7 separate regions of the Homo sapiens genome follow, and regions 1, 2, 3, 5, 6 and 7 are each linked to region 4. Evidence: fine-mapped expression QTL. A gene starts in region 4. Each other region holds a variant in brackets. All regions are shown on one strand. Distances are between the middles of the regions. Region 1 overlaps SUFU (SUFU negative regulator of hedgehog signaling). Region 2 overlaps SUFU (SUFU negative regulator of hedgehog signaling). Region 3 overlaps NT5C2 (5'-nucleotidase, cytosolic II). Region 4 holds the start of SLC68A1 (solute carrier family 68 member 1). Region 5 overlaps ACTR1A (actin related protein 1A). Region 6 overlaps SUFU (SUFU negative regulator of hedgehog signaling). Region 7 overlaps SUFU (SUFU negative regulator of hedgehog signaling).

Evidence for each region. PIP is the estimated chance that this variant, and not a neighbour inherited with it, causes the effect. A credible set is the group of variants that fine-mapping cannot tell apart.
Region 1: its variant is the best candidate, but not a certain one, in a credible set for the expression of SLC68A1 in prefrontal cortex (GTEx, PIP 0.64).
Region 2: its variant is the best candidate, but not a certain one, in a credible set for the expression of SLC68A1 in whole blood (INTERVAL, PIP 0.83).
Region 3: its variant is the best candidate, but not a certain one, in a credible set for the expression of SLC68A1 in prefrontal cortex (BrainSeq, PIP 0.72).
Region 5: its variant is the best candidate, but not a certain one, in a credible set for the expression of SLC68A1 in whole blood (INTERVAL, PIP 0.70).
Region 6: its variant is the best candidate, but not a certain one, in a credible set for the expression of SLC68A1 in whole blood (INTERVAL, PIP 0.52).
Region 7: its variant is the best candidate, but not a certain one, in a credible set for the expression of SLC68A1 in whole blood (TOPMed, PIP 0.57).

The regions. Positions count from the first base shown.
Region 1 is chr10:102,574,386-102,578,451 of GRCh38, reverse strand. The region is part of intron 3 of SUFU (SUFU negative regulator of hedgehog signaling); the gene reads right to left. Among named protein-coding and RNA genes, the nearest start is that of TRIM8-DT, 67 kb to the left of the region's middle. The variant T/G (reference allele first, on the strand shown) is at 1,783.
Region 2 is chr10:102,630,479-102,634,544 of GRCh38, reverse strand. It overlaps SUFU (SUFU negative regulator of hedgehog signaling), which reads right to left. Exons shown (of 12, transcript NM_016169.4): 12 at 1,010-4,066. Among named protein-coding and RNA genes, the nearest start is that of TRIM8-DT, 11 kb to the left of the region's middle. RefSeq lists enhancers at 1,492-2,237, 2,238-2,985. The variant G/A (reference allele first, on the strand shown) is at 1,722.
Region 3 is chr10:103,092,864-103,096,929 of GRCh38, reverse strand. NT5C2 (5'-nucleotidase, cytosolic II) reads left to right here. Exons shown (of 19, transcript NM_001351169.2): 12 at 950-991; 13 at 2,475-2,582; 14 at 2,892-2,958; 15 at 3,621-3,791. Among named protein-coding and RNA genes, the nearest start is that of NT5C2, 98 kb to the left of the region's middle. The variant G/TTG (reference allele first, on the strand shown) is at 2,050.
Region 4 is chr10:102,459,645-102,463,710 of GRCh38, reverse strand. SLC68A1 (solute carrier family 68 member 1) reads right to left here and starts at 2,316. Exons shown (of 10, transcript NM_024789.4): 1 at 2,261-2,316. LOC124902493 (a long non-coding RNA gene) reads left to right here. Exons shown (of 3, transcript XR_007062270.1): 3 at 1,651-2,918. RefSeq lists enhancers at 1,234-1,916, 1,917-2,600, 2,728-2,797 and a silencer at 2,238-2,457.
Region 5 is chr10:102,487,978-102,492,043 of GRCh38, reverse strand. ACTR1A (actin related protein 1A) reads left to right here. Exons shown (of 11, transcript NM_005736.4): 2 at 1,431-1,495; 3 at 2,906-2,981; 4 at 3,769-3,894. Among named protein-coding and RNA genes, the nearest start is that of ACTR1A, 13 kb to the left of the region's middle. The variant T/A (reference allele first, on the strand shown) is at 1,962.
Region 6 is chr10:102,559,128-102,563,193 of GRCh38, reverse strand. All of the region lies in intron 3 of SUFU (SUFU negative regulator of hedgehog signaling), which reads right to left. Among named protein-coding and RNA genes, the nearest start is that of SUFU, 57 kb to the right of the region's middle. The variant G/A (reference allele first, on the strand shown) is at 2,163.
Region 7 is chr10:102,535,709-102,539,774 of GRCh38, reverse strand. The region is part of intron 2 of SUFU (SUFU negative regulator of hedgehog signaling); the gene reads right to left. Among named protein-coding and RNA genes, the nearest start is that of SUFU, 34 kb to the right of the region's middle. RefSeq lists an enhancer at 2,439-2,598. The variant A/G (reference allele first, on the strand shown) is at 1,741.

The DNA.
Region 1 (4,066 bases), 110 kb before region 4:
AGGTGCCACTGCACCCAGACTAATTTTTGTATTTTTAGTAGAGATGGGGTTTCACCATGTTGGCCAGGCTGGTCTCGAACTCCTGACTTCAAGTGATCCACCCACCTCGGCCTCCCAAAGTTCTGGAATTACAGGCATGAGCCATCATGCCTGGCCCCAAGCCTCTTTGTTCTTTGTTTTTTGTTTTTGTTTTTTTTTTTGAGACGGAGTCTCGCTTTGTCGCCCAGGCTGGAGTGCAGTGGCGCGATCCCGAGTAGCTGGGATTACAAGCGCCCACCACCACGCCCAGCTAATTTTTTTGTATTTTTAGTAGAGACGGGGTTTCACCATGTTAGCCAGGATGGTCTCGATCTCCTGACCTCGTGATTCACCCGCCTCGGCCTCCCAAAGTACTGGGATTACAGGCATGAGCCACCAGCCTCTTTGTTCTTAAAGCCAAAGGGACTAAGGAGGTTTTAAACTCGTAGTCCTGGCCAGGCACGGTGGCTCACGCCTGTAATCCCAGCACTTTGGGAGGCCGAGGCGGGCAGATCACGAGGTCAGGAGATGGAGACCATCCTGGCTAACATGGTGAAACCCCATCTCTACTAAAAATACAAAAAAATTAGCCGGGCATGGTGGTGGGCACCTGTAGTCCCAGCTACTCAGGAGGCTCAAACAGGAGAATGGCGTGAATCCGGGAGGCGGAGCTTGCAGTGAGCCGGGATCGTGCCACTGCACTCCAGCCTGGGCAACAGAGCGAGACTACGTCTCAAAAAAAAAAAAAAAACAACTCGTAGTCCTATATACATTTCAACCAAAGAATGCCAGGAGGGCTGGGTGCAGTGGCTCACGCCTGTAATCCTAGCACTTTGGGAGGCTGAGGTAGGTGGATCACTTGAGCACAGGAGTTTGATACCATCCTTGGCAACATGGCAAAACCCTGCCTCTGCAAAAAATACAAAATTTAGCCAGGTGTGGTGGCACATGCCTGTGGTCCCAGAGGCTGAAGTGGGAGGATCACTTAAGCCCTGGGAGAGGGAGGCTGCAGTGACCCATGATCACACCACTGCACTCCTGGGTGACAGAGTAAGACGTGAGACTCCATTTCCAAAAAAAAAGAAACAAGAAAAAAAAATCCCAGGAAATCCTTTGAAGCTTTAAAATCCAAGACTAGCCTGGCCAACATGGTGAAACCCTGTCTCTACTAAAAATACAAAAATTAGCTTGGCGTGTTAGTGGACGCCTATAATGCCAGCTACTCAGGAGGCTGAGGCAGGAGAATCGTTTGAACCTGGGAGGCGGAGGTTGCAGTGAGCCAAGATGGTGCCACTGCACTCCAGACTGGGCAACAGGGTGAGACTCCATCTCAAAAAAAAAAAAAAAAGAAAAGAAAAAATCCAGGACATGCTTCTACTCCTCCCATCTTCTTCCTGAAGAGACCAGTTAAATCAGGAATGAAAACCCATTTAGACTGGGTACAGTGATTCACACCTGCAATCCCACAGCTGAGGCAGGAAGGTCGCTTCAGACCAGGAGTTCAAGACCAGCCTGGGCAACACAGTGAGACCCTGTCTCTACAAAAAAATTTAAAAATTAGTCAGGCATGGTGGTGCACACTTGTAGTTCCACAGCTACTTGGGAGGCTGAGGCTTGAGGATCATTTGAGCCAAAGCATTCCAGGTTACAGTGAGCTATAATTGTACCATTGCACTCCAACCTGGGCAACAGAGAAAGACCCTGTCACTGCAAAACAAAACAAAACATTTAGTTGCCATGGACCTATAAACTAGTATGGTCACT[T/G]TGGAGGACCAAATGGCAGAATCTATTAATATAAAAGGTAACTTCCCTTTGACCCAATCATTCTACTTATAAATATCTACCCTAGAGCAAAACATGTCACAAGGAGGAATGAATAAGGATGGTCACTGCATCTTTGTACTGTTTGTAATACTGCAAAAATGGCAACAACCTAAAGGTGCATCACCAGGGGAATAGTTAAATTATGGTTTATTCATACAATAAAATCACAGACAACAGTAAAAAAAATTAAATAAAGATCTTCAAGACATACCGTCAACTGAAAAATCCAATTGTGAAGGGCAGTACAGTTTCATTTACATTAAAGAAAGAAAAAAAAACATAGAAACCCAAACCATTTCATAGGTACCCAGAAGAAGGTGAATACATAGAAAAAAATCTGGCAAGCTGCAAGGACGCACACCAAATGGATAAAGAGGGTTTCTTTAGCGAGGGCCCTGAGATTGGGTGGGGTGGTCACAGAGAACTTTGACTTTATCTGTATAGTCTAAGTTTTTAACATCTGAGGTCAGTTGCAGTACCTCATGCCTGTAATCCCAGCACTTTGGGAGGCTGAGGTGGGTGGATCACTTCAGTCCAGAAGTTCAAGACCAGCCTGGACAACATACCAAGACCCCATCTCTACAAAAAAAAAAAAACACAGAAAAATTAGCGGGGTATGGTGGCATGTGCCAGTAGACCCAGCCACTCAGAGGCTAAGGTGGGAGGATCACTTGAGCCCGGGAGGTTGAGGCTGCAGTGAGCCAAGATCACGCCTCTGCACTCCAGCCTGGCCAACAGAGACCCCGTTTCCAAAAAAAAATCTGAAATTTATTTATGTATTATCTATATACTTAATGTTGGAAAGATGATCCTCCTCCTTGACCCCTCTGCTATGTGGCACCAGCAGCCATCACACTGGCTACTGTGGCATCACTCCAAATGCAGTGGCACTAATCTGGACATGCCAGGAAGCTAGGTGGTATGATTTGAATGTCTGCCTCCTTCAAAAGGTATGTTGAAACTCAGTCTCCAATCTAGCAGTATTGAGAGGTGGGGCCTTTAAGAGGTGATTGGGTCATGTGGGCCCTGCCCTCATATATAGATTAATAAGTTAATGGATTATCACAGAGGTGGACAATGGGGGTAGAAACTGGTGGGTTTATCAGAATAGAGACCTGAGCTAGCAAGTTCAGCCTCCTTGCCATGTGATGTCCCTGGGACTCTGCAGGGACTCCTCACCAGCAAGAAGGCCTTCATCAGATGGGGCCCTTTAACCTTGGACTTCTCAGCCTCCATAACTGTAAGAAATAAATTCCTTTTCTTTATAAATTAGCAGTTTCAGATATTCTGTTATAAGCAGCAGAAAATGGACTAGAACATTAGGAGCCATCCTTGGCTGGCAACTAAAATGGCACCACTGGCATTTTCAACCAGGCTAGCTTTTTAAAAAAATTTTGAGACAAGGTCTTGCTCTGTTTCCCAGGCTGGAGTGTGGTGGCACCATTATGGCTCACTGTAGCCTTAACCTCCTAGGCTCAAGCAATCCTTCCACCTCAGCTTCCCGAGTAGCTAAGACTACAGGCACACCACCATGCCTAATTTTTTTTTTTTTTTGAGACAGAGTCTTGCTCTGTCACCCAGGCTGGAGTGCAGTGGCTCAATCTCAGCTCACTGCAACCTCCGCCTCCCGGGTTCAAGTGATTCTCCTGCCTCAGCCTCCTGAGTAGCTGGGACTACAGGTGCATGCCACCATGCCGGGCTAATTTTTTGTATTTTTAGTACAGACAGGGTTTCACCATATTGGCTAGGCTGGTCTTGAACTCCTGACCTCATGATCCGCCTGCCTTGGCCTCCCAAAGTGCTGGGATTACAGGAGCCACTGTGCCCGGCCTGTTTCAAGGCTTTTTTAGTGACGAAGATAAAATACATTTTTTTTAAAAGAAAGAGAAAACACATCTTTTGTTCATCTTGCTAATTAGAATCCAAATTTAAGAATATAACATTTTTACTTATTTGATTTTATATTTGTATCTTTTATTTATTTTATTACTGTTTTAGAGACAAGGTCTCACTGTGTCACTCAGGCTAGAGTGTAGTGGCACAATTACAGCTCACTGCAGGCTCAAATTCCTGGGCTCAAGCAATCCTCTCGTCTTAGCCTCTCAAACAGCTGGCACTACAAATGTGAGCCACAACGCCTGGCCATATATTTGTATCTTTCTAATCTTATGCTGAACATCTTGCTTTCTAACATAATTACTTATTTGCTTTATCCTATTATATC
Region 2 (4,066 bases), 170 kb before region 4:
CAGATGAGGATACCTCCCCCAGCCCCCAGTCTCCGGGGAGAAAAGGGAAAGGGCATGAGGGCCCCAGACAGGACCTGCTGCACTGCTCCGTTGGAGAGTTCAGTAAGAGGCTGCAGGGGAAGGAGTGCGGACCTCTCAGCAAAGGCCCCCCACATGGCTAGGTCTCACAGAAGGGACAGGACATAAGAACCCCCTCATAGGAGCTGACACCCCCTCTCCCTTGCTTATGATGTCCTAGGACCTCCGCCCCAGCCCCCAGCCCCAGCCAAATCCCCTGCCACTATCCAGGATAGAAAACCAGAAGGGAATGAATATGTGAGGGCCCAGGTGGTCACAGGTTCCAAGAACTCTGTCTGGGCGCAGCCCTTATCCTGCCTGCCAGGCTAGTGCCTTCTCCCCCAGCTCAGTGCCTCCCCACACTGGGCGTTGGGCTGTTTTGCTGCCCCCCAGCCCTGGAGAGGCAGGAGCTGGGCAGTCCAGGAAAGGAAGATATACCTGATACCTCCCTCCACTGCCAGGCCCAGTGGAGTTGCTAGGGCGGGTGGGCTGGCCTCTGTGTCACCCAGTGGGTGCCACCGGTTCTGAATTGCCCTTCTATCTGGATCCTGCCCCTGGGCCCTGGATTAGGAGGTGGAATTTAGATGTCATGTGAGAGGAGCTGGAAGCCGGGCAAGGACTCCAAAGGAGATGAGGAGGGCCTGCCCTCCTCACCTGTCTGGGCCCCTCTTCCTAAGGCAAAAGGGGTTTTTGGTGAGAGGAGGATAGAAGAGGGATGTAGTGGCAGGGAGAGGGTCTTTTCCCACCGCCTCATCTCCCCAGACTGCTCCTCGCTCCCACCCCCTTGACCTTAGAGGAATTCAGGACCAGTGAGGGAGAGCCTGTCCTTGCAAGGTCATTTCTTCAAGACTGAAGAGCCACCAGCTGTGTGATCCCACTCTCTGGCACCTCCTCCACTCTCGACAACAATCCTGGGGGCCTCCCTCCATCCTGGCTTCTAAGTGGCTAACAACAACCCACTCCCTCTGCCAGGGCCCCGGGCTTCCGGCTCCACTACTTCAGGCAGCCAGAAATGAGCACACAACCCAGGCACTTCTGCAAAGATGTTTAATGCACTTAGATTACAGAGAGGAAGAGGGGGCAAGAAGGAAACGACATCTAAGTGAGTCACCCAAAAATTCTTACAAAAGTCCCAGGCTGGCTGCAGCCCCAGGAACCGAGTCGCCACTGACATTAAAAACTAATATAAAATTTTACAAAAATCTGCTTGTCGCAGCATTCAGGTACTTGTACAAAAGGAGGGGTCTCCCTACAGGGCTCCTGACTTGTAACAGGGACCCAGGCACCTCACCTGGCATGGATGTCCTAGAAGCCAGAAAGGGAAGACCAGACACAAAAATACAGTAAAGGAAATTCTCTACTGGTCAGCCCCATAGGGGCACCGACCTTCAGGTTTTCTCCCTGCTTGCAACTCAATCCGAAACCCCAGTCCCAAGACCCTGTGTCTATTTTTAAAAATGCTCTAGCCCTTTTAGACTCTCCCCTTGGCTTCTCCAGTCCCTGCCTTGGAGCACTGCCCTTGGAAGAGAAAGATACGGGCAGGAAGAGGCACCAGCTCCCCACACAGGCCTGAGACCTCGCACAAGCCTCCCAAACCCCCCTCAGAATTGCAGCTGAGTCTGCAGTCCTCCTGCAGCCCACACTGAGCCAGCAGAGCCACAGGA[G/A]CCTGCCTTATATAGCAGGCAAAGAGGAAAGGGAAAGGCCCTTCTCAGAAGCTCTAGCACCAGGGACCTGGAGGGGTGGGTACAACTAGGCAAGTCTCCAAGTAGCTTGCAGAAGAGGCAGATTTAGGGAGGGAGGCCCCTTACCTCCTCCACCCACTACAAGGTCAGGGGCTCCCTCAGAGCTGCAGGGAGGGAAAGAAAGGGTACATTCACCAAGCATCCTGTGCCAGAAGCTGTGCTGGACAGGGTCCAAGGTCAGCTTGGCTTGATCTTCTTTAAGGGTCCTCTCTCACCAGCCAGCAGCCCAAGAAACCTCTGGGAGGCACCAATGCCCATAGGAAAGGAGGCCTGGTGAGAAATGTGTGATACCCTGTCCTGCCCTCAGAGCCAGTGAGATGGAGCCTGGCCCCTGCAGGATCTTGGGTGAGCGTGAGGCTCCTGACATATTGCAGGTACGAAGGGGCCACAGGCTTCATGTGCTCATCATCTCGGAGCTCACCCACTTCCTCCTGCCTTACCCTGCTCCCCCAGAACAGGGCCACCATGCTGGCTGGTGTCTACCTTCAGTCCACAAAGACCCTCCAGGTCTGGGGCAGGTTGCTGACCAGGTGCTTCACAAACTAATGACAAAGCTTAGCTCAGAAAATGCCCCATCCCCACCCAACCAACGATGGAGGCACCCAGCAGATGGAAGTACGGCGAACTGCAGCAGGGAGCCCTCAGGCAGGTCCCGAGCAAGAGAGAGTTCAGGGAGAGGCTGGTCATGGTGGCAAGGAATGGAGGCGAACTGATGGCACCTCTCTGCCTGTGAAATGTCAGAAACAAGAGCTTCACAGGCAGGGCTGCTGTGGTGGGGGAAGGCCAGTAGGGCTCCCTCTGGTAAGTCCTCAGGGCAGTAGAGGCACAGCTGCCGACATCAGGTCCCGAGTGGCTTGCATCTTGGCTGGCGGGGATCTGCAGCCAGTCTCTCCCAAATACTCCAGGCTGATATGCCTTTTAACTCTGAGCTTGATGGAATTAACCAGATAGCCCTGGGGATGTGTAGAGGAGGCCAGGCCTAGTGGCTCCATGGAGGTCCAACTCCTGCTCCCTGGAGAACCCAGCTGGTGCCCTCATACCCCTGGGGGCAGCTCTTTGGCTGGATCTCTCATCAGTGGAGTCCTGCACCCTGTGGGCACTCCTGTGGCATCCCTGCTGGTGCCTGTGTGTGCAGCAGAGGCAGATGGGAGCAATGAGGAGCCCTGCATTGTCATGACTTTGCTTTGAAGAGGTGTAAAGAGTGATCTTGAAGTATTGTAACAGTCCCATCCCTAGAGTTGGGGGTAAGAAGGCAGGAAAGGGGCTTGCTGGTTCCAGGTCAGGCGTGGGAGATAACCCGAGAGGAACTCCAAAACCATGGGCTAGAGATAGGCTGGCTTCTGGAAGGCAAACTGTGAGATCTGCAGTACTGGGGGTGAGGGGCTGAGGACCACGAGAGGCCAGGATGCCAGAAAGGAGAGGGATTAGGAGTGGAGAATGAAAGATAGGGCATGAATGGATACAGGGAGGATGGGAGGGCAGCAGAGAGCAGTGTTAGCAAAACCAAAGTGAAAGAGATGTTAAGAGGTGGATTTTTCAATTTTAGTAAGGCAGCCCTACAGCCTGAAGGCTGGGAGGCCCAGGGACTGAGGAAATGGGACAGGACTGGTTACAGAGCTGGAGACCCAGGCCCTGAATGACAGTGGGGATGGTGTGTGATGTGCTGAACCTCACCCTCTCCCAGGTAGGCCTGGTTGGGTGGAAAAGGCCTAGAAGATGAGGCTGGGGTCACCAAGTCTTTGAGACCCATTCACTTGGAAAACAGTAGCACCCCTCCCTGGCCCCAGCTAAACTAGGCTCAAAGCTGCACAAGGGAGTGTCTCTACTCTCCCCCTGCCCCGGGCTCCACCAGGCCCAGCTGGGAAGAAAAGCCTCTCTGTGCAGCCGGCTCCTCCAGGGCTCTGGGCTGGCAGGCGAACACCAAGCACCTTCTCTGGTGGCAGCCCAGGGAGAGATACAGCCCTAGGCCTCTGTCAGAGAATGCGAAAGTTCAACGGGGAATGAAGTTCTGTTTAAAAAACATTATATACATGGCTTCTGGACATCTTTGCAGAGCAATAAAATACCACCCGGTTTCTACAAAATAAAATAAGGAAGAAGAAAACCAAACATGATCAGAGGAATTGTTCCGCGGCCAGAGGAGCTTGAGTAGCAAAGGCTTCCAGAGATGAGCTGGGAAGTGCATCCACTCGCTCTGCATCTGGCTGTCCGCCTCCCTCCTGCTGGGCTGTGCGGCAGGGGGTAGGTGAGAAAGAGGGCTGTCTCCA
Region 3 (4,066 bases), 630 kb before region 4:
CTGCAGCAATAGATGCTGCACAGATGTTTTGGCTCTTAGCTGTCAAAATTTATATATCTTTTTTTTTTTTTTTTTTTTTTTTTTGAGACAGAGTCTCACTCTGTCGCCCAGGCTGGGGTGCAGTGGTGCGATCTCGGCTCACTGCAACCTCTGCCGCCTGGGTTCAAGCAATTCTCCTGCCTCAGCCTCCCAAGTAGCTGGGATTACAGGCACCTGCCACTGCGCCTGGCTAATTTTTTTGTATTTTTAGTAGAGACGAGGTTTTAACATCTTGGACAGGCTGGTCTTGAACTCCTGACCTCGTGATCCACCCACCTTGGCCTCCCAAAGTGCTGGGATTACAGGCGTGAGTCACTGTGCCCAGCCCAAAATTTACTACCTCTTAAAAACAGTTTTTTCCCATGATTAAAGCATGTGGAAAAACTGATCTAACTCCTTAACTTCATCTTACTTTTGCTGAGACACTTAAAAATTTATAGTACTGGCAAGAAGTTCCACTTCCCCCAATTCGCTGTACATGTAAACTTGATTTAGACACCTGGTGATTTGTAGTAAACAGTCTTACATAAACCGTTGGTTTGTTGACTTAGTTGGTCTAGGGATGGCAGTAGCGAAGCCAAGGTGATAGGTTATTTCTGTGTGAGTCATTAGTTTTCTCTATACCCCTACCTCATATGCTCCTTTCCTCCAAATGTGTGTTCAAAAACATCTTCCAGAGGAAGTATGTATCCTCCCTGAGAATGTCAGAAGCCTTTTTTTCTTTTTGGTATATGGTAAAGCATTAATTTCTGGCTTCCACTGCCATGATTTCATAAAATTTAGAGGAAACAAGAATGTGGTGAGTCCTATGTTGAAAAAGACATGTTTTGTGAAAAGCTTGTAATTTCTTTAGGTTATATACCTTTTGCAAAAGTAGTATATGGACCTTATGTTAAATTTTTTTTTCCAGAAAATTATGACTTACCTGTTTGACTTCCCACATGGCCCCAAGGTACCGTATGTGACTCAATAGACCACTGCTTTAATAACAATGAATGCATTTAATCATTCTGGAATATTAAGGGGGAAAGAATTGGTCAGAACCCACCCAGAAAAGTCCTACTTTTTAAGCCTATTGTCTAATCTTCATTAACATTAGAAGTAATCCAGGAGCTAGTAGAATTTAAAATCAAATTGCTAATTTAGAGTCCGCAACTTGAATACTTAATAGACAGAAATAAAAGGGATATTCATGTGATATTTAGTAGGATGGGATCAGAATAATTTTATGCCCAAGAAGTTCTATGCAAAATTAAGTTTGTGTGGCAATGAAAGGAATTTTCAGGTTGTGGATGATATTTGATTAACAGAAACAGAAAATGTATGTGTATTCTTGACAACTTCTAGATTTTGTATTAGTTGTTGCTAAGTTTTTGCCAAGAGAGCACTCAGCCTTGATATTTAGCAGAGAAGTCTTCATTTCTGCAGTACGGCTGCACTTAGGTTTAAGGAATACTCCTTGCAACTTAGTCACATACTTACAGAATTTTAGTCCTAGACTTTAGTGAATAAACATCAGCAAATCCCTGTTTTGAGAACACCTGAAATCACAGTGTGCAGTGCCCTTCAGGTTGGTCTTAAAAGGTTAATGCCAGGGTTCCATTTCAGGATAGTCATGATTTTAATGGGCATAACTCAGTATTGTGATTAGCTTACACTGTGAGCCAAAAGCCAGTGTGTACCTAGAGCCATCATTCTGAGAATGTAACCAGTAAAATTTCCTAATAGTTCCATGTTAGTTTGTATACTTTAGCTCTGATGCCTGCCTCTGTCTTAATCTGTCCCTTGGGTATTGATTTGCATCTCTCCCTAGCTCTTTTGAGCTCCTTTTAGCAAATTTCAGGTGAGCACACTTTCATAAAGTGCTGTAAAATAAGTATTGTAATTTAGTAGTAGATGAAATGATTTAATGTATAGAATGTGTTATTACAGTTATTTATTATTTATATCTTGTCTGCTTCCCAAAGGATATGGCTTATAATACATAGACACAATTTTTTTTTTTTTTTT[G/TTG]AGATGGAGTCTTGCTCTGTTGCCAAGCTGGAGTGCAGTGGCACGATCTCGGCTCACTGCAACCTCCCCCTCCTAGGTTCAAGCGATTCTCGAGCCTCAGCCTCCCAAGTAGCTGGGACTACAGGCGCCCGCCACCACGCCCGGCTAATTTTTGTAGTTTTAGTAGAGACAGGTTTTCACCATGTTGGCCAGGATGGTCTTGATTTCCGGACCTTGTGATCTGCCCGCCTCGGCCTCCCAAAGTACTGGGATTACAGGTGTGAGCCACTGTGCCTGGCTGACACAATACCTTTTTAAAAAATAAAATAGTGGGATCTTCTGGCTATACTTAGTATTTTTATATTCCTTGCATCTGAGTGAGATTAAATAGTAATGCCTTAAGGTAAGGAGTGATGTTTCAACTTTTGCTGTTTCTCCTTCACCAGCCTGGGAGCTCCCATCGACCATGGCAGTCCTACTTTGACTTGATCTTGGTGGATGCACGGAAACCACTCTTTTTTGGAGAAGGCACAGTACTGCGTCAGGTGGATACTGTAAGTCATGAGAATGATCTGTCTTGCTAGCACATTGTCCTTAATGTTTCTCCTTCCCCCACTCTTACTCTACATAAGGAAACAGGAATTTTTTTTTTTTAATTAGCCGTATCTCTCTTTTGAAATTAAGAGTTTTGGTCTTAACTGAAACAGTCAAACAAACCCACTAATTGAAAAGAGTAAGTGCCATTCATTTGGCTGTCTGGCCAAGTAGCACTGGTGGTGGGGGGTGGGATGGGAGGGTTGTGGGGTGAGGGGAGGATTGTGATAGGATGATAAAGTATTACAAAATCCATATTCTTCATACAGAAAACTGGCAAGCTGAAAATTGGTACCTACACAGGGCCCCTACAGCATGGTATCGTCTACTCAGGAGGTAAGTCACAGACTTCCCTTTATTTAATGTCTTTGCTCAGACCTCACAGTGAAAGCTTTGGTAATCTCTCAGCAAAGTGCCACATATACTGTTTAGTAGTCTAAGATGTCATCTACTGAAGGTAAATAGTTTAGTCACCTCTTAATGCAATAGGAGTCTGGGTTTGAGCAGTTGTTAGTATATCCTAATGAATCTGATTTTCACTAAAATGATCAGTTTTTTTTTTAAATCCTATTGGAGGCTTTTTCTCAGTGCTTCGAATCACTTGGGGGTACTTCTCAATATGTTCTCAAGGGTTTCTCAAGGAGTTCCATGGGTATAGGTACATAGTATGTTGGAGTTATAAACAGTTGAGTAAAGCCAGCTTAATGGCAGATTTGTGATGAAATTGGCAGTGGCTGTTTTGAAGGTTATTTTCACTAAGCTGAGGATGTAGTTTTGTTGCTCTTGGATTTGGTGAGCAAGAGCTCTGGTCAGCACAGTGGAGCTGAAGGCCTTGTCTTAGAAGGCAGTAAAAAGAGAATGGTGAGTCTTTGTCTATTCTTCCTAGTCTGTTCCTCATATAAGAATAAAATGAATCATAGTATTTAATGGTTAAATACTATTGGAATGCTGATTTTAATATAGGGACAGTTTTCTCATTGTTCACTCTGTTGGTTCAGGTTCTTCTGATACGATCTGTGACCTGTTGGGAGCCAAGGGAAAAGACATTTTGTATATTGGAGATCACATTTTTGGGGACATTTTAAAATCAAAGAAACGGCAAGGGTGGCGAACTTTTTTGGTGATTCCTGAACTCGCACAGGAGCTACATGTCTGGACTGACAAGAGTTGTAAGCCATTCATAAATCTTTGGTGTAATTTATATCTAAATGACCAGCTTTGAATCAGTCGTCTTTGATAAACCATTACTTTGTATTCAGGAAGTCAGAGGTGGTCAAAAGGCAGGCCTTGATATTTGGATACTTCCTTCCCATAGAATATTCAGATATTTCACAGAACTCCAGAATTTGAATAAATATGAGAGGTTATCTTGTTTAACCTTCTTGAATCTCTTCGAGGTTAAGTTTAGAATGTTGGCGTCTTGAGTTGTGTTACAGTAACACTA
Region 4 (4,066 bases):
TTACAAAGCTAGTAGGTGCTGGAGTCAAGATTCAAAACAGGTTTTGACTAAAACAACAGCGTTCTCACTTCATCATCCCCCCCACACCCTGCCCCCATCTTATCAAATCCTGCTCATCCAGTGTCACGGCTTTCCCAAGCACACCCAATCACGTGTTCTCTCCCGTTTTCCCCCTTATCAGGCATCCAAATGCCTCCCTTCCCCTCCTCCAGCCCACAGGCTTCTTAAAAGCAGGGCTGATACCGGGCGCGGTGGCTCACGCCTGTAATCCCAGCACTTGGGGAGGCCGACGCGGGCGAATCACGAGGTCAGGAGATCGAGATCATCCTGGCTAACACGATGAAACCTCCTCTCTACTAAAAATACAAAAATTAGCCAGGCGTGGTGGCGGGCACGCCTGTAGTACCAGCTTACTCGGGAGGCTGAGGCAGAATAGCGTGAACCCGGGAGGAGGAGCTTGCAGTGAGCCGAAATCGCGCCACTGCACTCCAGCCTGGAGGACAGAGTGAGACTCCGTCTCTTAAAAAAAAAAAAAAAAAAAGCAGGGCTGGGTTAGTCCCGCCCTTGATCCCTGCCCTTTGCCTCCACCAGGCTCCCTCAGCTTGCTCAGTCAATCCCTGCTGGGTCGATTGGCCCCTAAAAGGTCAATATCAACAACATCCTCAGCCCTAGGGAACAGCAGCAGCAGTCATAGGAAAACTGTCATCTTCAGACCCCACTGTGCCCCTCCTAGCTCTGTGTTCTGCTTAACTGTGGGAGTCAGAGAGAAGGGGCAGCCTGGGAGGCTTGATGTGCCTCTCTGAGTAAGACACTAAAGCAAGGCAGCAGGTACAAAGAAGAATAGTGATCATAACAGAGGAACATTTATTAAGCTTTCGCCGGGTGCACAGCACTGTGCTAAGAGACACAGAAACAATCTGGGAAGAGAGCTCAGAGCAGCGCGGGAGAAAGGGGCCACATCAGGAAGGGTTTTGTAAACCTTGTGCAAGATTCTATGCTGAGGACAACAGGTGGGGCGCTGGGGGTGGGGAAGTGACAGATCTGTTTGGAAGAAGCCCTCTAGCAGGTGTCAAAACTCTTCCCCTTCACCCTACCAGGCCCCTGGTAGGTAAAGACTAGAAAGGGATGGAAGCAGCAACATCTCCCTGATTTCTGAACCAACCTATGGTGGGTGGGGGAGGTTGATGAATTTAGTGGCGGAAACCAAGAATGCCGAACTGGGCCCCTGGAGTGAGAGGTATCAGACTGTACAAGAGACATTAGTGCAGAGGTAAAAGCTAAGAAGAGGCATAATTTGGAGTCAGGAGCCCTGGGTCAGGTGTGAACATTATCTTTAACTTACTATCTGAGTCTATTCCTACATCTGTGAAGCAGAGAAAACAATTCCATTCTCTGCCTATCCTCAGGAATACCAAATGAACAAATGAACATGAAAGGTATAATATGTGCCCTTTTCTCAACAGGCAGCTGACCCCTGAATTGTCTGCTGTGTTTCCTGTTTCACTCTCGGGGTCTTGTCTTCCTGCCCAGTCTCCCCACAGCAGGGTCTAGCACCAGGGTTGGGGGGTGGGGGCCCATCCTCCTCCTCCGGCTGGAAATGAGCTTTCAACTTGTTGAGATGGGGACCTTCTCCCTCTCCCTCCCCCACAGGTCCCAGAAGAGGCGACAGCTTCACCTCAGGACCACCCACCCCTCCCAAGCCACTGAGGAGTTTGGGATCAGCCCAGGAGCTCTTCACTCAATAGCTGGTGCTGAAACACGTGTAGGGCTGCTCCCCACCGCCTGCACGTTAAAATCACCTGAGGAGCTGTGCAATAATACCGAGGCCCAGGCCTCACCCAGAACAGTTAAATCGGAATCTCTTCGGGCGGGCCCAGCATCGGTGTTTTTCAAAGCTCCCCAAGTGCCACCAGGGTTAAATGCCTTTATGCTAATGGCACGGATCCCGACCTGACCAGTGCATCCCTCGATCCCAGACCACCAGGGAGCTATTTGACCCACTGCATCCCTTTCCTCCAGACCCCCGGAGAGCCTTTCTGCGAGGATTCCACCCTTGCCCCCTTGAACCCCGCTTCTTCCGCCCGGACCACACAACTCTCCCAATCCACAATATGATCACCCCAAAGACCCCCGCAGATAGCCCCCATGACTCCCAGAGCGCAAAGCATTCCCCTCCCCCTCGGGTCTGTCGTTTGTGCCAGATCGGCCCCAGCCCAGCCCGCTCCTGCCCGCGAGCCCCGGCCGCTGGCCAGCGTCTCACCGCAATCGTAGCCGGCGAAGCCTAATCCCACGGCTGGCGGGAGCCAGGTGCGAGCCAATGCGCCTGCGCGCACTTCTAGGGCTTCCCCAGCCTCTCCCTCCGCCCCCGCCCAGCGATTGGCTCCGCGCGGCCCCCGGGCGCAGCTCCGGCAGGTGACTGCGCCTGAGGCTGCCGCCGCCATGTTTGTCACGGGCGCTTGCCCTTAGCGACCAAAATTAAAAGCGGACACTGGCAAATAGGGTCAGGTTGCCTGGATTCCTGACCGGCTCAACCCCTCTCCTTTACCTCCACGATAGCTTAATGTCATTTCAGTTGAAACCAACACGTTTTTTCTAAGCGCTCACCTTCCTTCCCTCCTTGCCTAGTACTCGTTGGGAGAACAAAGAGAGGTCAGCATCCTCCATTGAGTCTTGTGGTCTGAGCGGATGCACAGCTGCAGCCGACTTGGAGGTGTCAGCGGCTCGATCTGGGACTCCCTGATGCTGCATCATGAGCCCTTCAAGGGTGGACAGGTCCAGGTTGAGCTGTGGGCACCAGGGCTCTAGCCACAGGAGCCAGGGCTGAAGGTGGGAAACAGCCACCAGGGCCTGAATGAGCAACCATGCAGCACAACCTCTTTGTATTAATAACGGCAATAATAAAACCTAAGGAGTACTGAGTGCTTGCTATGTGCACCGTACTACATTCAGAACAACACGTGCATTCTCTTGTTGAGTCCTCACATCATTCCTAGGAGGTAGGCGCTTTTATCCACATTTTATATGTGAAGAAACTGCATTTCAGAGAGATTCAATGACACGCAAACAGCAAGGGCCCAGTCGAGGTGGAACCCGCTATCCTGACTCCCATAACAAGAGTCTTTCCTCTTCCCACACCTGCACAATCCCTCAAAATCAAGTTTTGTTTGGCTCAATGTAGGCTGTGGAGGATGTTTTATGTTTTCTCCCAATTGGCCTGTAAGCCTGGATAGGTTTTTGGGCAAGCAAACAGCACACATTCCAGCTCTGCCTGGTTCCCCTACCTTGGGACACAGGGCAAAAAGCCTGTGGCCTTTGCCTTATGGGGGACTTGGAACTCAACCCCTAGCTCCAACACTTCTTTGCTAAGGGACTTCTTTATTATTATTTTTTGAAACAGGGTCTTGCTCTGTTGCTCAGGCTAGAGTGCAGTGGTGGCATGATCTCAGCTCACTGTAACCTCCACCTCCCTGGCTCAGATGATCCTCTCACCTTAGCCTCCCAAGTTGCTGGGACCACCACCTCACTCCACCATGCCTGGCTAATTTCTAGAATTATTTGTAGAGATGGAGTCTCACTATGTTACCCAGGCTGGTCTTGAACTCCTGGGCTCAAGGGACCCTCCCGCTTCAGCCTCCCAAAGTGCTGGAATGATAAGCGTGAGTCACTGCACCTGGCTGGGACCCTCCTTTTGTGAGTCTGTTTTATGCTTTACAGGGATTTTTCAGACATTAAATGAGAAACAAGGGTGTAGGAGCTTTGTGAACTGCTCATCCTTATGACCTTCATTGATGGTTGTCGGCTAACTTCCTGCAACAGGAATGTTGTCCTCCTCCTAACAACCACAGCAAATGGTCCAATGTAGACGCCTAGTGTCCAGGGGCTACAGATTATTCAACCAGTTCCTGAGGAGCCCCCAGGGATGCCATGAACCTTGCCCCCAGAATCCATCTCCCACTAACCTGTCTCATTTCCCTCCTTCCCAATCTCTCTCTTTCGGACACCCTTCACACTTCCCATGTCACCCCAAGCCACACATACACGCACACACATACATACAACCATCTCT
Region 5 (4,066 bases), 28 kb before region 4:
TAATCCCAGCACTTTGGGAGGCCAAGGCGGGCGGATCACGAGGTCAGGAGATCGAGATCATCCTGGCTAACACGGTGAAACCCTGTCTCTACTAAAAAAAAAAAAAAAAAATTAGCCAGGCATGCTGGTGGGCACCTGTAGTCCCAGCTACTCAGGAGGCTGAGGCAGGAGAATGGCATGAACCTGGGAGGCAGAGCTTGCAGTGAGCCCAGATTGCACCACTGCACTCCAGCCTGGGCGACAGAGCGAGACTCCATCTCAAAAAAAAGGAAGAGGACAGGGTGTATCTACAAGCAATACTAAGCCTTGACATCTGTCCTGCACAGGGTTGGTCTCTGTGTCCAGAGTCACTGTTTACATTGATTGGGCCCTGGGTGGTACCTGAGATGCTGGGAGAACTCAGATTCTTTTCTGGACACCTCACTCGACATACCAAGTGTTGGAGCAGCAGGACTGTGGTTCTCTTCTATTCTCAGAGTAGGCTTTAGTCTTTGCTTCTCTTTACCATCAGGAGACCAAGGAGTAAAAGGAAAGCATAGTTAAAAAGAAAACAACAACAAAAATCTCCCAAAGCATCGTGCTCTGCCCTTGCAATAAGAACCAGACAGCACGTGTTCCATGGGAGTCCATTTCAAGCATGACAGTGCTCATGGCGGTGTCTGTCACAGAGGCCCTGGAAGCTGGGAGAGTTCAGGCCTGAGCTGGGAAAGTAGGTTAAAAGCACCCCAGGGTGGCGTAACAAGGAGTCATGTGCTTTTCCTACCTTATGTTCCTGAACTTGGCTGCTTTGATGCTTCTAGGTACTTTCTTCTTTCCCCAGGTTTTCTGTCTTTTTCTTCCCTTTATTACTAGTATTTTTAATTCCCAAAGCAAAACATGTTCAATGTAGAAAAGTCAGAGACTACAGAAAAATCACACATACGGTTGTGTATACAGTGAGAATCCTCCTCACCATCCTATTTCCACTTCCCTTCTTTTGGTGTGCATTTACCTTTTTCTAGGTTCAAATAAATGTATATATTATATACAAATATTAGTTTTGTTTTTTTTTTCCTGTGAGACAGAGTCTGTCACCCAGGCTGGAGTGCAGTGGCACAATCTTGGCTCACTGCAACCTCTGCCTCCCAGATTCAAGTGATTCTCCCACCTCAGCCTCCCAAGTAGCTGGAACTACAGGTGCCTGCCAACATGCCCAGCTAATTGTTGCATTTTTACTAGAGACAGGCTTTCACCATGGTGGCTAGGCTGGTCTCAAACTCCTGACCTCAAGTGATCCGCCTGCCTCTGCCTCCCAAAGTGTTGGGATTACAAGTGTGAGCCACTGCGCCCGGCCGCTTTCTTTTCTTAAATAAAAATGGTACCATATAATGTATTTTTCCTTTTGTATTTGTGATAGTTCTGACTCCTCATTCTCTCTCCTCTTTCCTCAGGGATCCGGTGTGATTAAAGCTGGTTTTGCTGGTGATCAGATCCCCAAATACTGCTTTCCAAACTAGTAAGTCATTCTGTAGCTTAGACGTTTTGGAGGCTCATCAGCTTTGTTACAGGCCCAGCCCTATAAGGGACAGGAGCCGAGTTTGGAGTCAACAAAGGAAAACAGTTGTCTACATGGTACAATTTGAGAGGCACAGATAAGAGGCCTCTTTTTAAAAATCCAATTTTATCTGATGCTAAAAAATTTTATCATTGGTAACTTATTGCTTTGGAGGATTGCCTCTTGGTGGAGCCCTCCTTTTAAAATTCTCCTATCACCCAGGCTGGGGATTAACATTTAACCCATCTACCATCTTTTTTTTTTTTTTTTTTTTTTTGAGACGGAGTCTCGCTGTGTTGCCCAGGCTGGAGTGCAGTGGTGTGATCTTGGCTTACTGCAAGCTCTGCATCCCGGGTTCACACCATTCTGCCTCAGCCTCCCGAGTAGCTGGGACTACAGGCGCCTGCCACCGTGCCTGGCTAATTTT[T/A]TTGTATTTTTAGTAGAGATGGGATTTCACCGTATTAGCCAGGATGGTCTTGATCTCCTGACCTCATGGTCTGCCTGCCTCGGCCTCCCAAAGTGCTGGGATTACAGCCCTTCTACCATCTTAATGAGGAGTTTCTCAGAACTTTCCTCCTAAGACAGAGAGACTGCAGGCAGGAGAAGAGCACAGAGGCTTACAGGAAGGGCTTAAAGGGGGAGGAAAGGAAGAGGCTATCTGTCCGATCTATAGCATCACAGTTTTTTTTGTTTTCTGAGATGGAGTCTCATTCTGTAGCCCAGGCTGGAGTGCAGTGGCGCAATCTCGGCTCACTGCAACTCCTGCCTTGCAGGTTCAAGCGATTCTCGTGCCTCAGCCTCCCAAGTAGCTGGGATTATAGGCATGTGCCATCACGCCCAGCTAATGTTTGTATTTTTAGTAGAGATGGGGTTTCACCATGTTGGCCAGGCTGGTCTCAAACTCTTGACCTCAAATGATCCACCTGCCTCAGCCTCCCAAAGTGCTGGGATTATAGGTGTGAGCCATCGAGCCCAGCCCAGCATCAGTTTTACTTAGAGGTCCTGGGAAGGGGACTAAGGACACTAAAATGTTTTGAGTTAATCACTCCTTTAGAAATTCTCATTTCCTCATCTTTCTTGGTCTGTTCATACACTGCAGAAAGAGAAGAACTAGAGGTATTAAATACTCTAAAAATTTGTTTTCATAATTTATAATAAATATAAAATATGAAATAATATATAAATAATACATGTTCATTTTAGAAATTGTGGAAAATACAGAAAAGTATAAAGAAGAAAATCAAAATCAACTGTGACTTCACTCCTTGAAGATAATCTCAGTAGAATTTGAGTGTGTATGTACATCTATACATCCTTCCTGTGTTCTGTCATGAAATGAAAAATGATGGTCCTCCTCACTGTCTTTTCTAGTGTGGGCCGACCCAAGCACGTTCGTGTCATGGCAGGAGCCCTTGAAGGCGACATCTTCATTGGCCCCAAAGCTGAGGTAATTCCCAGGCCTACAGAACAAGCCTTAAGCCAGCAGAGGACCTTCATTATTCACCACATGGAACATGTCCCAACATTTGGACATACCCATAAGTAAAAGGGGCAACTTTCTCTGAAAATCTCCTTTTTGATTCTCTCATCCTAGGCTTAGGTGGTTTATTTTTCCCAGGAACAGCCTGTGGTCTTGGAGAAGAAAATACCTGGGACCTCACTTTGGGACACACTGAGACCAGTCTAGGAAACAGGGCTGTTGTCTTCTGCATCCTGTCACTGCCTTGTCAGTGATCAAATTTACTGTGTTTATTATTTTTTTCACAAAAAATATTCAGTGGGGAGATCCTGGCTGGGGTACCCTAGGGATGAGTTAATTCACACAGCTTTGTCAGAGCCCTCATGCAGCCTCTTGTAAGCAGATAGCAGAATCGCTGTTGCCATCCTTGGCTTCAAGTGCTGAGGCCCAGAGGTGGGAGCCAGGAGATTGTGTCCTGGAACCAGGCAATGAGGAAGATGCCTCCTGCCACTTGCCCTAGAGGCACCTGAGGGGCCATGGAAATGCAGAAGCCCCTGCTTTGCCGGCTCCTCGGGAATGAGGGCAGTTTGCAGCAAACAGTATTTAGCCTTGGAGAATGAGTGCCCACCCTTAGCCCTGGGCAAGGACAGCAGGGTGGAAGCTCAGGAAGCTGAGGCTTCTTTGCAAGGGATTCAGCTTGCACTGCTTAGTCTTGGGAGAACAGGGTCCTGGGTGGAGCCTGACTGCAGTCGTAAGTCCTGTTCTCTTTTCCCAGGAGCACCGAGGGCTGCTTTCAATCCGCTATCCCATGGAGCATGGCATCGTCAAGGATTGGAACGACATGGAACGCATTTGGCAATATGTCTATTCTAAGGACCAGCTGCAGACTTTCTCAGAGGAGGTGAGGATCCTGTGTGTAGGGCACTCCTGTAGGGTATGCAAAGCTGTGTCAAACTCCTACCCTAGAGATGATGAGGAGGACGATGATCACTGCCAAGAGTGCTGGAGCCATTTGATTTTCAGGCATATTCAGATTTAATCTTAACACCATTCCTATGAGATATAGGTAGTAT
Region 6 (4,066 bases), 99 kb before region 4:
ATAAATATAACTGATGAAAAAGCTCCTTTTCCCCAAGTCCTCTCTCTTCATCTAAAATGGACCCTTGGCGGCTGAGAGGCTGGAGCACGCAGAGCAGGCTGGTTAGACTGTCCCTGGAGGCTTGCTCTTGCCACTCAGCAGCTATAGGAAGTTCTCCAGGGCCCATCACCTCCCTATCGCCTCATCTGAAAAGGGGCAATATGAACCAGTATCTTCCTCACCACGCTACCCACCGCACAGGTTAAATAAGAGAAGGTAAGTACCTATGATATTGGTGCTCAATATCTACTGTTTTGTTTTTTTGAGACGGAGTCTCACTCTGTCGCCCAGGCTAGAGTGCAATGGCACGATCTCAGCTCACTGCAACCTCCGCCTCCTAGGTTCAAGCAATTCTCATGCCTCAGCCTCCTGAGTAGCTGGGATTACAGATATGCACCATCATTCTCAGCTAATTTTTGTATTTTCAGTAGAGATGAGGTTTCACCATGTTGTCCAGCCTGGTCTTGAACTCCTGGCCTCAAGTGATCCAACTGCTTCAGCCTCCCAAAGTGCTGGGATTACAGGTGTGAGCCACCACAGCCAGCCAATACCTACTGTTTTATTTACTTACTTTTAACTATAGAAAAGCAAGTTTTGTTGTTGCTGTTGTTGTTGTTGTTGTTGTTGTTTTTGAGACAGAGTCTCGCTCTGTTGCCCAGGCTAGACTGTAGCGGCGCGATCTCGGCTCACTGCAACCTCTGCCTCCCAGGTTCAAGCAATTCTCCTGCCTCAGCCTCCCGATAGCTGGGACTACAGGTGCGTGCCACCACACCCAGCTAAATTTTTATATTTTTAGTAGAGACGTGGTTCCACCATGTTGGCCAGGATGATCTCAACCTCTTGACCTCGTGATCCACCCACCTGGGCCTCCCAAAGTGCTGGGATTACAGGCGTGAGCCACCGCACCTGGCATAGAAAAGCAAGTTTTAAAAAAGGGCCTCAACAGGAAAAGACTGAATCACATCTGTTAACTTTTGGGAAGGCAAGAGGAGGCAAACCCCAAGAAAACTCTACAATGCATTGAGGTTCCTTATGTAAAACATGACTTGCTGTCAATATCTGGAAAAGTCTCTCTGACTTACAGAGGCAGGCTGTGTCCCTCAGCACTTCCAACTTCAGAGACAGGAAGCATGATGGATGGATTCCTGGAACTCTAAACTGTGCAACACACTGTATAAGGTTTGCTAGCCAGGCGCAGTGGGTCATGCCTATAATCCCTCCACTTTGGGAGGCCAACATGGGCAGATCACTTGAGCCCAGGAGTTCAAGACCAGCCTGGGCAACATGGCGAAATCCTGTCTCCACAAAAAATTTAAAAATTAGCCGGGTGTGGTGGCATGCACCTGTAGTCCCAGCTACTTGGGAGGCTGAGATAAGAGGATCAACTGAGCTCGGGAGGTCAAAGCTGCAGTGAGCCATAATCGTACCACTGGACTCCGGTCTGAGCAACAGAGTGAGATCCCATCTCAAAAAAAAAAAAAAAAAAAGCTTGCTGGTCTTTCCTAACCCTAAATGCATGCCACATAGTGTGTATGAACCAATCTCTCTGGCCAAGGAACCTAAGAAGGGGGACCTATTCTCAAGGACTCAGTAAAGTATTTTGTTGCTATAAAAACACTAGGCTCGGTGCAGTGGCTCACATCTGTAATCCCAGCTACTCAGGAGGCTGAGGCAGGAGAATCACTTGAGCCTGGGAGGTGGAGCTTGCAGTGAGCCAAGATCATACCACTGCACTCCAGCCTGGGTGACAGAGCGAGACTCTGTCTCAAACAAAACACACAAACAAAAACAACCACTTTTATATAATGATCCTTCTATTGTTTGTTGAAAATAACGATAACATTTACTGGATGGCCCCAATAGTATTATTTTAATAACATATTAATTTATCTAATTCCTCCTCACTTTAAAAATCCTTTAGCAATGGTTATTAACATGTAAAGGTTAATTTCTCCACACCTGGCTAAGTGATCCCATTTAAAGGAATTTATCCTGAAGAAATACTCCGGTAAGGCTGGGTGCAGTTGCTTATGCCTGTAATCCCAGCACTTTGGGAGGCCAAGGCGGGCGGATCACCTGAGGTCAGGAGTTCGAGATCAGCCTGGGCAACACGGTGAAACCCC[G/A]TCTCTACTAAAAATACAAAATTAGCCGGGTGTGGTGGCACATGCCTATAATCCCAGCTACTCGGGAGGCTGAGGCAGGAAAATCGCTGGGAGGAGAACCTGGGAGGCGGAGGATGCGGTGAGCCGAGATCGCGCCATTGCACTCCAGCCTGGGCAACAAGAGTAAATCTCCATCTCATCAAAAAAAAAAAGAAATACTTCGGTAAGAATACAAAGATGTACATATACGAGGACGCTCACTGCAGCTTTGTGAAAGGAAAAAATTAGAAATGACCCAAATGTCTAACAATAGAAGACTGGTTAAATAAAGTACAGTATATGTAGGTATTAAAAAAGTGTCGCGTTAAAAAGAACATCCTGACAGATGTCCAAATGATAGTAAGTTAAAAAAGCAAGGTGAAAAACAGTATGAAAAGCATAGTCCATTTTTACAAAATACTGCAAGTTCTTTTTTTTTGAGACTGAGTCTTGCTCTATCACCCATGCTGGAGTGCAGTGGCGTGCTCCCAGCTCACTGCAACCTCCGCCTCCCAGGTTCAAGCAATTCTCGTGCCTCAGCCTCCCAAGTAGCTGGGACTACAGGCATGTACCACCACACCTGGCTAATTTTTGTATTTTTTTTTTAGCAGAGATGGGGTTTCATCATGTTGGCCAGGCTGGTCTCAAACTCCTGACCTCAAGTGATCCACCCATCTCAGCCTCCCAAAGTGCTGGGATTACAGGTGTGAGCCACTGCGCCTGGTCAAAATACTGCAAATTCTATCCAGACATACGCATGGCAAACAAAACCTGGAAAGAGGAACACCAAAGTTTTCTCTGTGAGGGAATGAATTATGAAGGACTTTCACCTTCTGTGTCAGATTTTAAATTTCTAAGTTTCAATTTTATAATGAGCAAGTATTTCTTTTGTAAACAGGGGAAAGGGAAGAAAATGTGAAAACAAAAAAAAATCTCTGTTAGCATTAGAGTCTGTCAGTACCACAGGGTTGGATCAGCCATGAGCTCTGATGGCCTGGGAGAGATCCCTACTCATGCAGTGCCATCCCAGCACTCAGAAATCGAGCCACTCACAAATCGAGCCAACTGAGCACATGTCATGAGGTTGCCATTAAACAGCAGCAAGTGAAGGCACTTCAATTTCCAGTGTCAGTTACAAGGTTGGGGAGATACGTTTTTCCTAAAAACGCAAATGAAATTGCCTTGGAATTTGTGGTTAAAGCCTACCAATGGCAGAACTGAGAGCAGATAGCCTCTCCAGCAGAATTCTAAAGCACAGTTCAGAAATCAAGCCCTGTTGAGTTGGGGAATGGTTTCTTTCTAATGAAACCCAGAGGATGGGGGGCAGGGGAAGAGTAACTGGCAATCTGAAAAGAATAAACTGATCGTAAAATGAAAGGGGAACAGGGAAGTAAGAAAAACTGGCTGCAAAGTAGGACAGACAGACATGGATGTGTCTACTGGTGAAGTTACTGATACATTTATTGCAAAACTTTCCAAACGACTCATGCCACAGGCTAGATTTGTTTGTAAATCTGCCATAGCAGGTGAAATGACAGCCATCCTGTCCTCGTGACTGGAACATTCTCTTCCCAGGCCCAGTGTCCTGATCAATAGGCAAGGTTCCTCTGATCCCAGGCAGGGCTGGGGCTTCTTAGGTGGGGAGTGTTTTGCCCACACGATGGGCATTCCCCTCCTTACTAACAGAACCCCAATTTTGGTTTTCTGCCTTTTCCTGGCCATTCCCTTCTGCGAGCCAGGCCCATTCCCAGCCAATATCATCCTTGACCTAACTCTAGCCAATGAGATGCAAAGGGGACACCAATGAGGGCGGTTCTGTGGAGGTTTTGGTTCATCTTTAAAGGACATAGGACAGAAATGTCTCTCTTACTGCCTGTAGACTCTGT
Region 7 (4,066 bases), 76 kb before region 4:
TCTCCAATTGTTTTTCCTAGAGAGCCCTAATACATTGATATAAATAAATGAATAAGTAAGTAAATATGGAGAAGACTCTTCCTTACAGTAAAATCTCAATATCAATGAATGAATGTAGAAACAATTATCAAATGAGAAGTCACCATTTGACAACTATTGTAATAATAATTCAGGCAAGAATCATCAACGGGTGGTAAAAATAGTGGGTAAAAAATCTGATGAGAAACAAGATACTGACATAGCCTCAAAATGCCTTCCCACAAGTTACTTATTAATTATTAATGGAAAAGCAGTAACTATACAGAAGAGAAACCTAGCAGACACCACCTTAACCAAACAATCAAAGTAATTAGACATCATCAACAGTAATTAGACAAATCAACATCAAGTGCCTCCTGATATGATCACTAAGAAGGGCACAACATGTCTGTGATATTCCTATGGAGAAATACATACACTGATCCTACGCATGAGGAAACATCAGATAAATCCAAATTGAAGGACATTCTATAAAATAACTGACCTGTACTCTTCAAAAGGTCATGAAAAACAGAAAGATTGAGGAAACATTTGAAGGCATCTAAGAGATGTGACAATTAAGTTACTAAAAAAGACTCTGGAGTCACTGAAGCAGGGTGACCAACTTGTCTTGTTTGCCCAGGACTTTTCTGGCTTTAGAACTGAAAGCCCCACATACCAGGAAAAGCCCAGGCAAATGGGGACAGTTGGTCAACCGATCCTGAAGTGTCCACTGTCTGACCCGCACAAAGCAAAACACTGCCACACTTAAAAAGCACTGAATATGCATCAAGAGCCACCAAAATGTCAGCAGTGCCAGAGCACAGTCTCTGAAGCCAGGCTGCCTATGCCCAAATCCTAGCTCTGCCACCCTTCCTGGCTGTGTGACCCTTGGCAAATCACTTAGCCTCTCTGTACCTCAGTTTCTTCATCTGTAAAATGTAGATAAGAAGAGTTTACTTCTCTTCTTATCTACATTTCACTTATATACCTTCTCACTTCTAATGTAAACTATGAACTTTGGGTGGTGATGATGTGTCAACGTAGGTTCACTGACTGTAACAAATGTACCAATCTGGGTAAGGATGTTGACAGCGGGAGAGGCTGCATACATGTGTGTGTGTGCATGCATGCGTGTGGTAAGCAGAGGGTGTGTGGTAGCTCTCTGTACTTTCTGCTCAATTTTGCTGAGAACCTAAAACGGCTCTAAAAAAGTCTTTTTTCAAAAACGAAGATAATTGTAGTTTCCATATGGTAGCTACTAAAATGAGTTAACATATAATATAGAAAACACTTAGAACAGCACCTGGAACACAGTAGATCTTAGTGTCAGTGATTACTTACAGTAGCAGTTTCCAGTTCTGCTAATTTACCTAAGGGAATAATCTTACATTTGGAAAAAAAAAAGCCTCTTGCATAAGTATATTCAGTAGTATTTATAAGAATAAAAAATCTAGAAACAATCTAACTGTTCTACAAGTAGCGGTATTATATGAGTTCTGGCACATTATGTGGTAGGACATTACAAGTCACTAAAAACAATGGTTCTGAAAGCAGAGGGACTAATCTTTGAGAGGTGAGGGGTTCTCTTTCCACCTCTTACTGGTAAAGAGGAACAGGAACTTTACATCAGAACCCCACTCTATAGCCTCTAATGTTTTCTGTTCACCTATTATTCACTATAGCATAAAAATAAACTCCTTTCACAATGGTCATGAAATT[A/G]GGACCCTTACACATTGCTGGTGGAAATGTAAGATGATACAGCTGCTATGGAAAACAGTATGGCGGTTCCTCAAAAATTAAACATAGAATTGCCACATGATCCAGCAATTCTACTTCCAGGTATATATCCAAAAGAACTGAAAGCAGGGTCTTGAATAGAAATTTGTATACTGATGTTCAGAGTAGCATTATTAGCAATAGTCAAAAGGTAGAAGCAACCCAAGAGTCAGTCAATAGATGGATGGACAAGCCAAATTGGTATACACATATAATGGAATATTAGCCTTTAAAAAGGAAGAAAATTCTGACATCTGCTACAACATGGATGAACCCTGAAGACATTATGCTAAGTGAAATAAGCCAGGCACAAAGGGACAAATGTCATATGATTCCACTTATATGAAGTACCCAGAGTAGTCACATTCATAGAGACAGAAATAAGATGGTGGTTGCCAGGGTTTGGAGGAAGTGAGAAGGGGGAGTTATTGTTTAAGGGGTACAGAGTGTTTCTGAAAGTGGAAGGTGGTTATGGTTGCACAACAAGGTAAATGTACTTAATTCCACTGAACTGTAAATCTAAAAATGGTTAAAATGGTAAATTTTGGGCTGGGTGCAGTGGATCATGCCTATAATCCCAGCACTATAGGAGTCCAAGGTGGGAGGACTGCTTGAGCCCAGGAGTCTGCGACCAACCTGGGCAACATAAGGACATCCCATCTCTACAAGCAATTTAAAAATTAGCTGGCCATGGTGGTGTGCAGCTGTGGTCCCAGCTACTCGGAGTCTGTAGCAGAAGAATCACTGAGTCTGGGAGGTCCAGGCTGCAGTAAGTTGTGGCTGCACCACTGCACTGCAGCCTGAGTGACAGAGCAAGACCTTGACTCAAAAAAAAAAAAAAAAAAAAAGGTAAATTTAAATTATGTAGGCTGGGTGCAGTGGCTCATGCCTGTAATCCCAGCACTTTGAGAGACCAACGCGGGCAGATCACCTGAGGTCAGGAATTCAAGACCAGCCTGGCCAACACAGTGAAACCCTCTCTCTGCTAAAAATACAAAAATTAGCTGGGTTTGGTGGCACATGCCTGCAGTCCCAGCTATTCGGGAGGCTGAGGCAGGAGGATCAGTGGAGCCCAGGAGGCAGAAGTTGCCGTGAGCTAAGATCACACCACTGCACTCTAGCCTGGGCAACAGAGTAAGACTCCATCTCAAAAAGTATAATAATTTAAGAAAAAGATAAGTTATGTACATTATGCCACAAATAAGTAGTTATGAAAAAACACAAAACAAAATTCAACATAAAGTATGATTCAAAATGTTGATGTAAATACGAAATTTTAAATGTGAGTAAAATATATAAGGGAAAAAGAAAATGCAGGCCAGGCATGGTGGCTCACGCCTGAAATCTCAACACTTTGGGAGGCCGAGGCAGGTGGATCACGAGGTCAAGAGATCGAGACCATCCTGGCCAACATGGTGAAACCCTGTCTCTACTAAAAATACAAAAATTAGCCAGGTGTAGTGGCAGGCGCCTGTAGTCCCAGCTACTCGGGATGCTGAGGCAGGAGAATTGCTTGAACCCGGGAGGCGGAGGTTGCAGTGCGCCGAGATTGCACCACTGCACTCCAGCCTGGCAACAGAGTGAGGTTCTGTCTCAAAAAAAAAAAAAAAAAAAGCAATAAAATTATTATAGTGGCTACTACAGTATAATTTTTGTTTTTCAAACTTCTTTGTATTTTCCAAAATTTTCTACCATTTATAATCTCCTGGCCAGGCACAGTGGCTCACGCTCACGCCTGTAATCCCAGCACTTTGGGAGGCCGAGGCAGGTGGATCACCTGAGGTCAGGAGTTTCAGACCAGCCTGGCCAACATGGTGAAACCGTCTCCACTAAAAATACAAAATTACCGGGTGTGTTGGTGGGCGCCTGTAGTCCCAGCTACTTAGGAGGCTGAGACAGGAGAATCTCTTGAACCCAGGAAACAGAGGCTCTAGTGAGCTGAGATGGTGCCACTGCACTCTAACCGAAGCGAGACAGAGCAAGACTCTGTCTTAAAATCATCAACAACATCATCATCATCATCATCATCATCATCATCATCATCATCTCCAGCCTAGACTATAAACCCCACAAGGGCAGGGTTGTATCTTGGTCACTACTGTATCTGCAGGTCTAGCGTGCAAGGCTTCACATAGTCTGTTGCTAAGTGTTCATATGCATATGCCAAGGACATGGCAAGAGAGGCCCAAGGTCAGGCCCCTTCCTCTGGGGGTGGCCTGGATGCTTCCATTGGTCTTTGAAGCAAGGAATGCCAGGCCAGCCACGGTGG